3 separate regions of the Homo sapiens genome follow, and all the other regions are linked to region 2. Evidence: fine-mapped expression QTL. A gene starts in region 2. Each other region holds a variant in brackets. All regions are shown on one strand. Distances are from middle to middle.

Evidence for each region. PIP is the estimated chance that this variant, and not a neighbour inherited with it, causes the effect.
Region 1: its variant is the best candidate, but not a certain one, in a credible set for the expression of WASF3 in subcutaneous fat (GTEx, PIP 0.64).
Region 3: its variant is the best candidate, but not a certain one, in a credible set for the expression of WASF3 in whole blood (INTERVAL, PIP 0.61).

What each region holds. Positions count from the first base shown.
Region 1 is chr13:26,513,052-26,518,281 of GRCh38, reverse strand. No RefSeq gene overlaps it. Among named protein-coding and RNA genes, the nearest start is that of WASF3, 42 kb to the left of the region's middle. The variant G/A (reference allele first, on the strand shown) is at 2,383.
Region 2 is chr13:26,554,858-26,560,087 of GRCh38, reverse strand. WASF3 (WASP family member 3) reads right to left here and starts at 2,405. Exons shown (of 10, transcript NM_006646.6): 1 at 2,269-2,405. RefSeq lists silencers at 2,302-2,511, 2,772-2,831.
Region 3 is chr13:26,597,406-26,602,635 of GRCh38, reverse strand. The region is part of intron 1 of WASF3 (WASP family member 3); the gene reads right to left. Among named protein-coding and RNA genes, the nearest start is that of WASF3, 42 kb to the right of the region's middle. The variant C/T (reference allele first, on the strand shown) is at 2,261.

The sequences.
Region 1 (5,230 bases), 42 kb after region 2:
AAATTCTCTAAAACAAAGCTGATTGGAAGGGGTGATACAATGAATCAGAAATACTGCCCAAAAGAAAAATGGACAAAAGAGAATATTGCAAAGATTACCTGCCTGAAAATTCTCTGCTCCTGGAACATGAATCACCCAGGGCACACCATCTGGTGAGCTGCGAAGGCAGCTTTAAGCAAGCGCACCTGCTGTCATGTACATCTTAATTATTATATTTTATGGGACTCTAAATTTTATTGAAATACAAATTTGTTTACCCAAATTTCTCTTTGCCATATGGCTCAATAATTGGGCCTGTCTCATAAACTTCATGGGGTCAGGATGAAGCATAATGATGTCCCATAATAACATGTTATTCCAGAATAACAAGGTCCCGGTCATTGAGAAGGTCCAGTTCTGTCTTGGGAACCGGCCTCGAGGACTTAAAACACAATTTGAAAATCTCTCCCAAAAGAATTGCCCTCCACGACTGCTCTCAAATCACTTGAGTAATTTGCATTGATCTTAAAATGGACAGAAATTGTAGCAAAATCGCTCCTCATGGCTGGGCAGGGAGGGGCTCTCTTTTCTGAGGCTTGCTCATTCTTGACAAAGGAACATTTCATTTTGTCACCATAGAAAAAACAATTTAGGTTTCTTATGAAATGGCATATTTTCTGGTGAGATAGAAGGATCCTTCTACTCTGCAAGAAGGAGGAGGCTTTTTAATAAGCCCAGTGTTCCCTTTCTTCATTTAGAAATTGTCTCCTGGTGATCTTCAGAATTAGTCTGAAGACCCGAGGGGTTTGTGAAAGCGAACAGCCCGGGCTGTTCTCCCTCACGTTCTTATTTCATTCGTCCCAACTTGGTGCTGCCTGCAAACAGAGAAGGGAAGACAGTCCCAACAATTTTCACCAGGAAGATAATTGTTCCTCCACTGTGTTAACAGGGAGAGGGGAGCTATCACATGCAGCTCTTGGGAGCTGAAAACCAAGCTCAGAACAAACAGCAAAGGCTTCCTTGATTTACCCCAGCCTGGAGCTGGAACTGCCATTCCCATTGCTGTAAGGGTTACCCCAAACTGGTCCCAGCAGCTGGAAAAGACTGGGCCCTTCAGGAAGCTTGGGGCCCAGAGCCAAAGCAGGTGATGGGTTGAAGTGAGCCATCCTGGGCCAAGGATTAAGGAGCTGGAAGGCAAGAAAGTACAGGCAAATTGATTCTGGCTGCGTAGAGGTGCCTCTGGGATGCAGACCTTTGCATGGGGTGGCTGTGCCTCAGGAACTGGCCATGGCTGCTCGTGTGCTGACCCTGGCAGGAGCTGGGGGCTTGCTCCTACATTCCCAGCCAGGCATGAAGTCCAGGGATCTGCCTCTCCTTCTCTGCCTTTTTTATATTAATTCTAGAGATGATATGGATGATGGTGATGATGGACAAAGACGATGACAAAGGTCATCTTTGTTCTTCAGTCACCTCACTGTAAGGTAGGCAGGTTGGGGGATGATGCCTATTTCAGAATTTAAGAAACCAAAGGTCAGAAAGTTTAAATGATTTATTCCAATCTCACAACGATAAAGTCAGGATTCAAATTATTTGGAGTATATAACTCCACATCCTATGTTTTCATCCTAAAATCCCCCAAGAAAAACCTAGGGGCTGGCCTTTAAGAAATGTCTAGTCATAATGCTGAGAGTGTGTTTAGCCTGCCGAGGGCAGGATTTTCAAAGTAAGGTCATAAAACTCATAGTCTTCTGTTTATACTTTTTTATTTGACAAGTTCAAGGTTGCCTGGAAACAACTAGCAGAAGAAATGAAAAACCAATATCACATTTTTTTTTTAAATCCAAAAATCTAATTGAATTTATTACTCAGATGGGAATGCTGGTTTTAAAATTCTATTTTTAGATAGCCTTCAGAAAGTTAGCTTGCCTTTACTTTAACTAACAAAACTTATTGAAAATGACTTTGTCAATCCACAAGTCCCCCAGAGGTCTCCTTAATGTTTCTGTTCATCAGATAGCGCCAGGAAGGGAACACAGGACATCATCCTTCCCCCGAGGTGCTTGTTATCTGGTTGGGATTGCTGGTACAATCACCAAACAAGAATTAGTACATGAAAAGAGCCCAGAAAGAAGTGAGATGGGGGTATGGACAGGGATGTGCAGGGATATGAGCACATACTGACCAGCACTTGATGGCTGGTAGGAAGCTCATGATGGGTGAGCGGCTGGATAGATGGATGGATGAGCCAAGGTCATTGCGGACAAAGGAAATGCATGAGCTCATATGCACCAGTGAGTGGGGTGGGGATGACAGTGGAGGCTGAGGGCAAAAAGTTTGGGCTGCCCCGGAAGGTTCCTGGAGGAAAGTAGAAAGCATGCTTGGAATGTCATACCAGGACAAATG[G/A]TGGCATGTCAAACAAAGCAACTGGGGTTTTAACTGAGGCACAGTGCAGAGGCCTGGAAAGTATTTTGGAAAGCCTGTGGAATGCTAAATGATCAAATGGCTTATGCTGGAGTGGACCATGAGGAGGCCATTGGGCCAGAATGTCAGAGTAGTCAGAGAGCTGGACTACGGAAAGAGCAATGAGAACAAAAAGAGACAGGGAGATTGAGTAAGACACAATGACAACTGCTACCGTGCGTTACTGTCAAAGGCTGCAAGGTCCTACTCAGGAAATCTCTGGGGTTTGCTCGGGTTTGGGAATGCCTGAGACAGTCCTCAGACAGGAAAGGAGGTGAGGAACCAAAAAATAACCAGGGCAGAAGAAAACAGAGCTTTTTCAGACATGGATTCTGCCATTTTTCACACTCCTTTGTCCCTCGTGCCTCTTTAACTTCAGGCACAACATCTATCCATCCATTGAGCCCGTCAATGAATAAATATGTATTAAGAGTCCAATACAAGCCAGGAGCCATCCTGGCCTGTCTGAGGCCACTTCATTGATTTATGTTTCCTCTGCAGCTCTTCCTCGGACCCTGCCCTGTCTCTTTCCAAGACTGACACCTGAGGCTCCATTCCTAGGACTTTTCTACTTTGTGTTGACCTTGGCTTTCTTGGTATAGTTATTTGTGTGATTCTCATCACCACTGACTTGAAGGGAATTTCCAGGACTAATTCTCAGGGCCACATGGTTTAAGGATAGACCACTGCAGGCTGAGTGTCCCCAGCTTGGTGACCTGTCCCACTACTGTTCCACCTGGTAGAAGGAATCGTCCTTCTAAAGCAACCACCTAGGCTGTTTCTCTTTGTAGCTGCCTCGATAGTTCACAGTGGCCTCTCACAGTAGCCTAAAGGTTTTAGGCTATTTCAGCAGTTCTGCCTCTCGGGTGTTCTTCTGTACATGCACTCATCCTGCTTCAATGGGTGGCCAAATTTCAACATCATCCATAGCTTCTATGTGGGGTTTACCTCCAAGGTACCTGATCTGATGCTAGGTGTTTTACTTTATTTGTATGTATCAGCACAAAGAAGGAAATGGCAGAGCAGAATTTTAATCCACCCTCCCCCACTTTTTTTTTTGAGACAAAGTCTTGCTCTGTTGCCCAGGCTGGAGTGCAGTGGCACAATCTCAGCTCACTGCACCCTTGCCTCCCGGGTTCAAGCGATTCTCCTCCCTCAGCCTCCTGAGTAGCTGGGAATACAGGCATGTGCCACCATGCCTTGCTAATTTTTTAAAATTTTTAGTAGAGGCTGGGTTTCAACATGTTGGCCAGGCCGGTCTTGAACTCCTGACCTCATGTGATCTGTCCGCCTCAGCCTCGCAAAGTGCTGGGATTACAGGCGTGAGCCACCACCCCTGGCCTAATCCATCCTTTTAACGGTGCTTTCTTCTCACTTATCTGTAAGTCATCAGTTACACCAGTTTTCAGCCAAGAATATCCCAGAAACTCTCGAACCAAATGTTCATGCCACTGCTCACATTTCATTTCTTCCTTGATGGCTTCCTATAAGGAACCAATGTCAGCGAATCAGAAAATGACCTGGAATCAGAACTTTTTTGAACTGGAAGGAACCTTAAAGATCATCTCTTTTCACCCATTCTTTTTACAGATGAGGGAACTGAAGCCTCCAAAATTAATTTGCTTTTTTCTAAGGCCACCGGCTATTGGGTGATGAAAGCAGCAGTACAGCTCCATACTCCTGCCTCTGCCCCCGGAGCAGAACAGATGTCCACCTCTCGTCAGAGGCAGTCAGGGGCTGGGGCAGGCACTGAGATCCACCCGTCCTTCCTACCTCCCTGATTGCTTGGCATTATTTACGTCTGATTTCCAAATAGGGCTTTTTGGTTGTGATAATACAGTTTAAATGAGATTTTCTGCCCAACTGCAATCTGGCTGACCTTTCTGCAGTTTGCCTTCTCCAGATCCCGGGAAATGTTTGAAGTGAAATTTACAATTAAGTTGATTTCTTTTAAAGGTTAAACCCTTGATTTTAGTTCCAAATCCTTGCCGTTTTATTTCAGCTTTGAAAAATTTCCAGATTTTCCATTTTATGAATATACCACTGTCAAAACTACACAAAGAACCTAGAAGTCAGTGTTAGAATTAGTCTATATAACAATTAATGGGAATATTACGCTATGTTCACACCAAGATATCTACAAAGATGAGTGGAGACAACGCCCTGAACAGAGATTTTTTTCCCCCATCTTCTCTGTAATTTAAGGTTGCATGGTTAAATACTAAACAACTCACAGCTGCAAAAAGGAAGTTGAAGACAGTCTATAATTTTGCATCAAATGCAATTCCAAAAAGGTTTGTGATTTTCGATAACAGCATTGTTACTCTGATTCTTTCCTCCTATAGTGCTCTCCCTTTAATACAAATCATAAAGGAGTCTATGTTTTGAAGTATCAGAACCTCCAATGCAAGAACCAAAGAAGAATTGTTAATTTGTCCACAGGCCTGCAATTTTGCCATTTTAGATGCCTAAGACATTATCATCAAATGCTTCAGTGACAGTCTTAAATTAAGCCAAGGTGAAAAGGAGATATTTTTGGTGGTCGTTTTTTATCAGTAAATGCGGTCATATAATCATAAAATTATGTGGGCAGAGAGGTGGCCTGAAATGTGTCAGGGCACAAAATAACTTGGCATTTAAAAAATACCCAAACAGGCTGGGCGCTGTGGCTCATGCCTGTAATCCCAGCACTTTGGGAGGCCAAGGGGGCAGGATCGCTGTCACGCGCGTCTGTGAGCAACAAGGCTGTTTATTTCACCTGGGTGCAGGCGGGCTGAGACCGAAAAGTGAG
Region 2 (5,230 bases):
CAGCATTTTGGGAGGCCGAGGTGGGCGGATCAACCTGAGGTCAGGAGTTCGAGACCAATCTGTCCAACATGGTGAAACTGCATCTCTACTAAAAGTACAAAAATTAGCCGGGCATGGTGGCGGGCGCCTGTACTCCCAGCTACTCGGGAGTCTGAGGCAGGAGAATCGCTTGAACCCAGGAGGCGGAGGTTGCAGTGAGCCGAGATCACACCACTGCACTCCAGTCTGGGAGACAAGAGCAAGACTCCGTCTCAAAAAAAAAAAAAAAAAAAAAAAAAAGAAAGAAAGAAAGAAAGAAAAGAAAAGAAAAAGAGATTCAAGGTCTACAGCAATGGAGAGCCACCCAAAGTGAAAAACAATCTGGGAGTACTCTTCAAAGAAAGTCCTTGGAATTCCAAAGACGATCACTAGTACTAGCCCGTGAGTAGGGACAATTCATTTAATACTTGCATTATAACGCAATTGTTTTAATCAAAACATCCCAATAACCAAAAGGTTACCTGCCATACATAGGTTTCTATGGGAACCGTAACGTGTGACTACAAAGACACACTGACAAGAGATAGGAGGTTACAATGTTGGCATGACCACTTAGCAAAGTGTGTTCCACCTTTGTTTTCGTAATTGTTGAAGATAGTGAAGCACATCATTGACTATTAGGTTGTAAATTTTAAAGCAAACAGATTTTTTAAAAACAAATGCTATTAAGCAACTTCATGTCAGCCAACTGGAAATGCAAGAACAATTTCTATATGTACATAGTTCTAGAATAAGCACAGGTTGGAAGGTAAATATAATAGTTGACCAAACTTTCCAATATTTAAACATGTGAAAAGACACAGCTTTTGTGAATACCAACTAAGAAAATCTTTCAAGATGAAGAAAAATGAGTACTACACTGAAGTCATTAGAACCCTGGGAGAAGGGAGCTGGAGAGGACACAATGAGAATGCCTTTGGGAAAGGTCAAACCCAGCTTTCGTTTGTTTAACCTCTCAAGCAGATAAAAGAACTAGCTTTAAAGAACCACTGCATTGTTTAACTGCTAGAAAAGGAGAGTTGGGTAAAGCACATATAAAAAGAAGCAATAGAATTTGCCCTAGAGACAATAGAAAGATTAGTCAATTACAATACTTTGAACTTAGTTTTGATAGAGTCGCATTTTAAGCTTTAGATAAACCTAATTTTTAAGATGCAAAATATTTCAAATAGCTATCCTCTCCCCCTTATAAAAAGTAGACTCTGAATCTTAAAATACCATGTTCTGCTATGCATTTAATTTGAAGAACTGCGAAAAGTAGTCTTTTTAATTTTCAGTTTTTGAAAACTCGAGACTGTTGCTGGAAGTAAACCGCTAATTTAAAAATTAACCTTAAAATGAGAAAGAATTCCTATGATGCTCCCATTGATCCCTAAGCCCATCACATAGTTTCTGAATAATTAAGAACTCTCGTCTCCACCAGGGAACTCTCCCTTGCAGAGGGGCCAAATCAAGAAGCAATCGCCATTGCACGTCAGCACCACAAACTGAGAGGAAGCTTCTGCCCTCGCTAAAGCCCAGGCGCGCGGGTAAAGACCCCCGGGGATGATACCCCGCGCGCCGCGGCTCCGTGCGCGCGGTCCCCCGCACTCGCGGGCCGCCCCACCTCCTCCCCTGCACTCCAAGAGTCCGGCCTGGTCTCCGAGGCCGGGAGCCACGCGGCACCGCAGCCTCGAGGGAGAGGACGCCCGCAACCAACACGCACGCGGGCACCAAGAGGGCACAGGCCAGGGCGGCGAGGGCCGAATGGGGCCGGGGGGCACGCGGAGCTGGACCAGAACCAGCGAGGGCGCGCAGACACTGAACGGATGCGAAGGTCCCGGACGCGGAGCGGCCCGGGGCGTCGTGCGTGGGGCGCGAGCGGAGGCCCGGGCGCCACTTACGGCGGGGAGGGCGGGTGGCTGTCCCGAGTCCAGGGAGCGCGCACCGGACGGCAAAGGGCCGGAGGCCCGGAGGCGCGGGAGAGAAGGGCCGCCTGGCCGCGCCGTGACGGCGAGAAGCCCCTGCCAGCGCGGGAGCCGGCCGGGAGAATGCGGCCGGGCTGCAGGGATAGGCGCGAGGCGGCGCCGCAGCCCGCAGTGGGCCCCGCCGCCCGGCCGGAGCGCGCGGCGATGCAGCAACTTCAGTTCGCCGTGGGGCCGCCCCTCCCCCGACAGCCGCCCGGCCCGGAGCCGAGAGGGCCACAGCAGCCTACAGCGGAGAGCCGGGGCGACCGCAGCCCTCACTCACCGGTCCGCGGTCCCGCCGCCGGCGCCGGGGCTGCGCTCTGAGCTCCATGGTCCCGCCGCGCCGCGGCCGCCCGGCGCACCCGCCTCGCACCACACCGCACGCAGCGGCGCGAGCGACGCCGCCTCCGGCCCGTCCACGGCCGCGGCCACGCCCCCTCCCGGCGGGGGGGCTCGGCCGGAGCAGGAGGGGGGCTCAGTGCCGGCTCCACCAACCAGGGCCAACTCACGGGGCCGCTTCACCAGGATTGGCGAGTGCCTCGGCCAATAGGGAGCCGGCGAGCGCGCTGAGCGACGGTGCCGAGGGGCGGGGGATTGCGGAGGCGGTGGCTCTCACCCTTGGTCCTCCGCCCCCAGCTCGGGATGAGGCTTAGGCAGCGTCCTTTCCAGCGAGGAGAGGTGGGGATACTTCGGGCCAAGAGACCCTTGTATCACCTCTGATTGCTAGGTGCCCATTACAGTACCTTTGAGTTTGCGCTTATATCCTAATCCTCCCTGGGTGTTGAGGGCTCCTGCACAGAGGTCCTCTACCTGTAAGGTGTCAGACGTCCTCCAGGGCTGAGGCTTCAGGCAACCCTGAGAGGACTGTAGCCCTGTTCATGGGTTGGTTTTATGCCCTGCTCAAATTCGTTAGCATTCTTAAAATCTTCCCATCTCCTTCAACACAGATTCTTCTGTTTTTATCACCCTATAACCAATCTCTCTCCACCCTAGATGTGAGGAAATCCACAATACTTATTAAAACTAAGATATCCCTGAAACTGCCAGCTAAGCCCTGCCACAGTGGAACATAGCCACGTGCGACCAGATGACTGAGGCATAAACAAACTTAAGAAAAAGAAAGGAGGAAAGGAAAGGAAGAGAAGAAAAGATAGAAAAGCCAAGATAGAAAAGCTAGGTCACAAAGGAAAGGGGTTTAAAAACATCTAATAGAAATGTTACCTTTATTTTAATTTGCATGCCTTTATTCTTTTTATTTACCAATAGGATCACTAAATTGAAAAACTTTTAGGAAAAAATTTTAAATTCTAATGAATAGTTCAAGAAACACTAATTCAAGTTGGTTTGCTCTTTTCTTTACAGATGTGTAATAATGATCAACATCTAGCTAGAGACAACTAAAAGTTGGAAAAAATGAATAGCAGTTAATAATTTCACCAAAGTTTGCAACACCAGAAATGCAGTAGAAAAATCATGCAGCCCTCTTCATAAAATGTCTAATCTATTAACCTGCATTACTTCCAAAGGAGGGATTTTAAAAGCTCTTTTTAAAGATGACGTATATTCAGTTTCCATAAAGTGCCATCATTTTAAAAAATTGCTGGTAATTAACAAGGTAAACAGGATTTTGGTGAATAATTACAGTGACCCAGTATTTTAAATATTGATACTAGAGTGACAAATGTCTGCTGAATTGAAAGCTAAATTGGCATTCAAATTAAAATGACTTTCCTTCATTTCATCTTCACTTACCCAGGGGAATGGCTTCCATGTCTATGTTTAGGTCATTAATTTAGAACTCAAAAATATGAAAGTATAGATACCCAGAGTGTTTTCAAGGTTGCTAATCATATTTCCCTGGCTGCTTCCCTCTTCGGTGACCCCAGCCTTATAAACCGCTGCTACACTTAGTTTGCACTCACTGTTAGCCCTTAAACACATCATCCCAAAGTGTTCAGGTTTGTTTCATATAGGTCAGTCTTACCTCTCTAATTAGATCATCAGTTCCATGAGGATAAGGCCCTTATTTTACAGTCCTCTTTCCTCCTTTTATAATGCCTAGTACAGTGCTGAGCATGTGGTAAATATGATTCTATTCCTAGTGTTGTGGTTCATGGTACAAATAAATTATTTCAAATATGGTCTTGTGTGAACCAGTCCTTTAAATAAAAACTGCTTAGAGCAGTCTTGTTAGAGGATTAGAGCCCACCGCTAATAAGTGCCTCATCCTTAATAAAATGTTGCTGCATCAGGGAGTGAATTGGTGACCTGTAACAGAATCTTGACTAAAAGTGCCTACTAAATAGGAGTGCTTCTTATCACAAAACCAGAAACCTGGAGACAGCCACAGGGCTTCTGTAATATCTCTTCTATGGTGTCGTTGTGTCTCAGGCTCTTTCTAGCCATTGTCTCTGCTATCCTTGTCATGTGATCTCTGTCTTCATCCTCACAGGATGCCTGCTTCCCTTGTAAGCATTGCATCACATTGAGGAAAATGGTAGGGGGATGGGTAAAGGGCAAAAGATCAAAGAGGTGCATGCCCAGTTGGGTCTGCATCTTCCTGGGAAGCTTTACCCAGCACCTTCTGCTTGCATTTTATTGGCCAGCCACATGTCACATGACCACCTTTAGCTGCAAAGGAGTCTGAAATGCTAAGTATTTAAAGTTGGGGCATTGGCTGGAGGAATATTAGAGTTTTGTTAGTAATGGAAAAGAGGAATGCAGACCTTGGGTATGAGAGTGGCAGTACCTGATGTAGTTGCTGAATAAATGAATTCATGATTGAGCCCTCACTCTATTTATTCATAAGACCCACTTTTTTAAAAAGGCCACTCAGGTGTCAATTAAAAAACAATCCAATTTTCAAGTGAGCAAAAGATCTAAACAGACACCTCCCTAAAGTGGAGTTGACAATACACAGATGGCAAATAAACATGCTCAATATCATGTGTCATTAAGGAATTGCAAATTAAAACAAAAATGAAATACTATGACATACCTACTAGGATGGCTAAAATAAAAAAGCTAACGGCAACAACAACAAAAAACCTAAGGATACCAAATACTGGCAAGGATACAAAACAACAGGAATGCCCATCCATTGCCGATGGGAATGCAAAATGGTACGACCACTTTGGAAGACAGTCTGGCAGTTTCTCACAAAGCTAAGCATAGTCTCACAATTCAGTCCAGCCATCACACTCCTAGGTATTTACCCAATTGTGCTGAAAACATGCCCACACAAA
Region 3 (5,230 bases), 43 kb before region 2:
TAATAGTGGCCACTATAACAAAGAGATTCATAAACCTGTACCCACAGGGGATCCTATGTGTTCAAACAAAACTGACAAACACAGCAGTACCATTTTTACAACATGTCTACATTCAAAGCTCCTGAGCCTCTAGTCAAAACCTAACTCACTATATCTAAAGTAATCAGGGAACTAAATGGCCCACCATCATGCCACAAGAATACTACAATTTATGAGAGAAGATACAAACGAACAAAAACAAGGAAAAAATGACCTCCTAGAAATAAATGTAAAAGTTCAGTCACCTAAGTAACTCATTATTGCCAAAAACATTTCTAGCATCAAATTCTATCTCCAATTAATTAAGTAGCAGTAATCATTTAATCAGTGGCATCCAATATAATCCTGTAGGAAACATTTTCTGAAGCCCAGAGGCTGCATGGTAAAGGGGAAAGATCAGAGGTATGGGGGTCAGAGATCTGAGTTCCACCCCGGAACTACCATCGAAAAGCTCTGGACCTTGGAAGAGTTAGTACTGTTTGAGTCTCAAGCTCCCCTTTTATAAAAATAAAGCTAACCATACCTCCCCTTAAAATGTGAAGGGGAGGATGAAGTCTTATGGACAAAGAACACAGCAAGGTAGCAGAGGCATTTAATAACCGGCAGTTATTATCCCTGGACAACTAAAAGCAAAACATGCTCCCTGTCGGCAGACAAGCACAATCACCACAATCTGGCAAATTTACTCAGCCCACTCTTGGCAAAAAGGAAGTGATGATATCTTTGCATTTGTGTATGCAGATGACAGGCCACATCCTCATTCTTTGAGGTTAGGTGGCAGCACTGATCTGTCTCCAAATGACAAAACTCATGCTTGAGGCCAGTGGCCAATATATCACATATCCCTGAACCAGCACCTCTTTGTTTTCTACAAATAAAGATAATTATGGCCAATTTACTCACTGAAAGGGTACAGGAATGTAGATATTCCAAACAGTTGATATTCTGATATTTGAAATCCTCATGTTTATTTAACTAAAGCTTCATTTGCTCTTGTAGAGTTTTCTGTTAATAACTTGAATTCTGCATAAAATGCCAGCTGAATCTGTCAACCCTGAAGGCAGGAGGGTACCAAGATCCAGATTCTGCCCCTATCCTCTCCATCATCCCCCATCATCCATACTCCAGTGACAAGATGCTTCTTTCAAAGTCTAGAAGAGCCCAAAGGCAGGCCTCATCTCTGTAGAACCTTGAGCACAGGAATAATGATTAAATGACTATAGAACTCCACATACAAAGTAAACTGAAGAAATTAAAGTGGTAATAAACCTATACACAGAGACAGTCAACAGAATTAAAATTAAAGCACTCCAGTAAGTTACATCTACAGTATTATCTTCTCCCCTCAAAACTGCTGAGATAAATGGAATTCCATGGAAATTTCCTAAAATAAATGCTACGTAATTCACATACCAAATACACAGAGATTAAGTACCATTTTTATCAATCTGCTTAAAATTAATGACCTCAAATCTTAATACAAAAGTAATCAGCAATTTTTAAAATACATCTGAAAGCAAGTGAATGTTATTGCACCTAAAAGTGCTGAAAATACACTATATAAACCCACAAAACCATGAGATTTCAACACAGCATGGCTCTATCTACTATATAACCTATAAATGTAAGCATTTTCAACCTAAGAGAACCAAATTGCTAATCATCTCTACCCTGCCACAAAGAAATCACCCTGACTATATACCACATTCCCACAACTAAGGAAAGGAGGAAAGACAGAAGTGGAGAGGTGGAGAGAGGGTGTGTAGGGAAGAGACATTAACATTCTACAGTGCTGCGACAGTGTTTCTTCTTGGAGGTAATAAGTAATGCAGAGCGGATGCTCCTGTTCGTCTTTTGGTGATGAATCCAACACAAGATTAAAGTCATGAAAGAGGAGCTAAAACATCTGGCCTCCAGTACTAACCAACCAACAGCAGAACGGAGACACCCCAGCTCCCATGAGCATTGTGAAACATCTTACTAAATACACCTTCTTAATCAGGATTTGTATCTGAATTCTCTGCTGGGATGAAAAGCTAACCAGGATTGTCTCTGCCCTGCCCTGACATGAGAGCAACCAGAAAGGAAAAAATGAGAAGCAATGTACTTCACTGCTACTGAGCCTGCCATGCTGAGCCAGAACTCTGCTTTACATTCTTAGCCTCTCACTTGGTCCTCATAGCAATCCTATGAAGTAGGAACTATTAATATCCCCATTTTA[C/T]AAACAAAGGAACTAAGAAACAGAGAAGTGAAGTGGCTTGCCCCAGGTCACACAGTACATAATAGAGTTGAGAGTCAAACCTAGAAAACCTTTTTTCAGAGACCATGCTTTTAACCACTAGCCTTCTCTTCTTTTATTTGAAATGAAATATAATCTTGCTGTAAAGACAGCTCAGGAAATGTAAAGCCATCCTGTATCCATCCCACTCACCTTACTGCCCACTCTACCATTAAAGGTAAATCTCAAAATCTTTCCTACAGTAATCCTAGTCAAACCACTCAAGCCCTGGGAAGTTTACTTTGTACTTCTGCATCATTTAATCTTCGGAGCCCAAAGAGGATGACAGATGTGGGTGTTTTAACCTCCAATTAACAAAGCAGTACTTTCAGAGAGTAACTGAATACTACTACAAAGCTCTAAGTGGCAAAGCCAAGGTGTGAACTCCCCAGTCCACTTAGAAATGATGCCTTTTGGAAATATTTTATCCACTTTGCCTCAATGAATCAAATCCCATGGGATGACTGTAACCTCCATTCTATAACATTACACAGAGACAATTTGCCCCAGGATTTAGAAAATGTGGATAGAACACAAAGAAACCTACAGGAAGTAAGTATCAGATATCAAGAAGGCCTTCATAGGCAAAGTAGTAATCCACAGCTGTTTTCATCTGTGGCAAAGTGGTGGAAAGACAAAGAATCTGCCAATAGATAAGGGTAAGAAGATACCAGCTGAACTGTTAACAAACTTTTAATGTCTCCATGTGAGCTGAAATGATAGATTAGAATCTCCAGGAGCCCCAAAACACAGCAAATCTGCATCCACTTGCCAACTCTTTCCTGTGGGCCTTAATCAAATACACATGGGTAGTGCACAAGGTGCTAGGGCAGGAGAGCTGAGAGAGCCCCTATGTCACGTCAGGCACCTGTGAAGTCCCTAGATGCAGAGCAGCAGCCTGACACCAGGAGGAAGGCAAGTAAGTGGACAGAAATCAGCTTTTACCATCTCTACAAAAAATACAGAAAATTAGCCGGGCTTGGTGGCAGGCACCTGTAATCCCAGCTTCACCAGAGGCTGAGGCAGGAGAACTGCTTGAACTCAGGAGGCAGAGGTTGCTGTGAGTCGAGATCAGCCACTGCACTCCAGCCTGGGTGACAGAGCAAGACTCCGTCTCAAAAAAAAAAAAAAAAAGAAATGAAAAGAAGAGCAGGGCAGGCCAGGCGCAGCGGCTGACGCCTGTAATCCCAGCACTTTGGGAGACCAAGACGGGTGAATCACCCGAGGTCAGGAGTTCGAGACCAACATGGCGAAGCCCTGTCTCTACTAAAAATACAAAAATTAGCCAGGCGCGGTGGCATGCATGTGTAATCCCAGCTACTCATGAGGCTAAGGCAGGAGAATCGTTTGAACCCTGGAGACAGAGGATGCAGCGAGCCAAGATCGTGCCAGTGCACTCCAGTCTGGGCAACAGAGCGAGACTCCGTCTCAAAAAATAAATAATAATAAATAAAATTAAAAAGAGCAGGGCAAAGAGATACCTTCTGAGGAGCTGAAAGCCATCGAAAGAGTATAAATAACTCACCACTGTCCAGAAAGGCTAGCAGCCAAGCTATAAAACAAAGAGAAATCTCCCACCACTCAGGAAGCTGGCAGCTTGGCTCTGAAGCATAAAGAGATCTCCAAGATCTTACTGGGGTTCGGAGTGAAAACTGCCGAAAACAAACTCGTGATCCCACTCTCAAACTATGTGAATCCAATGGTAAACTGACTCTAATTAATGCTACTTCAAAGCCCAGATCCAGCTCAGTCCCCCTCATTAACAGTGTGACAAAAGGAAGAGCAAGCCTTTTGCCGGGATAGATATTCCTCAGTCTTTCTTGTTCTTAATGTCCAGCAAACAATAAAAAATCATCGGGCCGAAGAGCTTCTGCACAGCAAAAGGAACTACCATCAGAGTGAAGAGGCACTACAGAATGGGAGAAAATTTTTGCAATCTACTCATCTGACAAAGGGCTAATATCCAGAATCTACAATGAACTCAAACAAATTTACAAGAAAAAAACAACCCCATCAAAAAGTGGGCAAAGGATATGAACAGACACTTCTCAAAAGAAGACATTTATGCAGCCAAAAGACACATGAAAAAACGCTCATCATCACTGGCCATCAGAGAAATGCAAATCAAAACCACAATGAGATACCATCTCATACCGGTTAGAATGGCGATCATTAGAAAGACAGGAAACAACAGGTGCTGGAGAGGATGTGGAGAAACAGAAACACTTTTACACTGTTGGTGGGACTGTAAACTAGTTCAACTATTGTGGAAGTCAGTGTGGCGATTCCTCAGGGATCTTGAACTAGAAATACCATTTGACCCAGCAATCCCATTACTGGGTATATACCCAAAGGATTATAAATCATGCTGCTATAAAGACACATGCACACGTATGTTTATTGCGGCACTATTCACAATAGCAAAGACTTGGAACCAGGCCAAATGTCCAACAATGATAGACTGGATTAAGAAAATGTGGCACATATACACCATGGAATACTATGCAGCCATAAAAAATGACGAGTTCATGTCCTTTGTAGGGACATGGATGAAGCTGGAAACTATCATTCTCAGCAAACTATCGCAAGGACAAAAAACCAAACACCGCACGTTCTCACTCATAGGTGGGAATTGAACAATGAGAACACATGGACACAGGAAGGGGAACATCACACACCGGGGCCTGTTCTGGGGGAAGGCAGAGGGATAGCATTAACATGTTAAATGACAAGTTAATGGGTGCAGCACACCAACATGGCACATATATACATATGTAACAAACCTGCACGTTGTGCACATGTACCCTAAAACTTAAAGTATAATAAAAAAAAAAGACTAAAACGTAAAAACAACAACAACAACAACAACAACAAAAAATCAAGGGGCCAGGCGTGGTGGCTCACGCCTGTAAT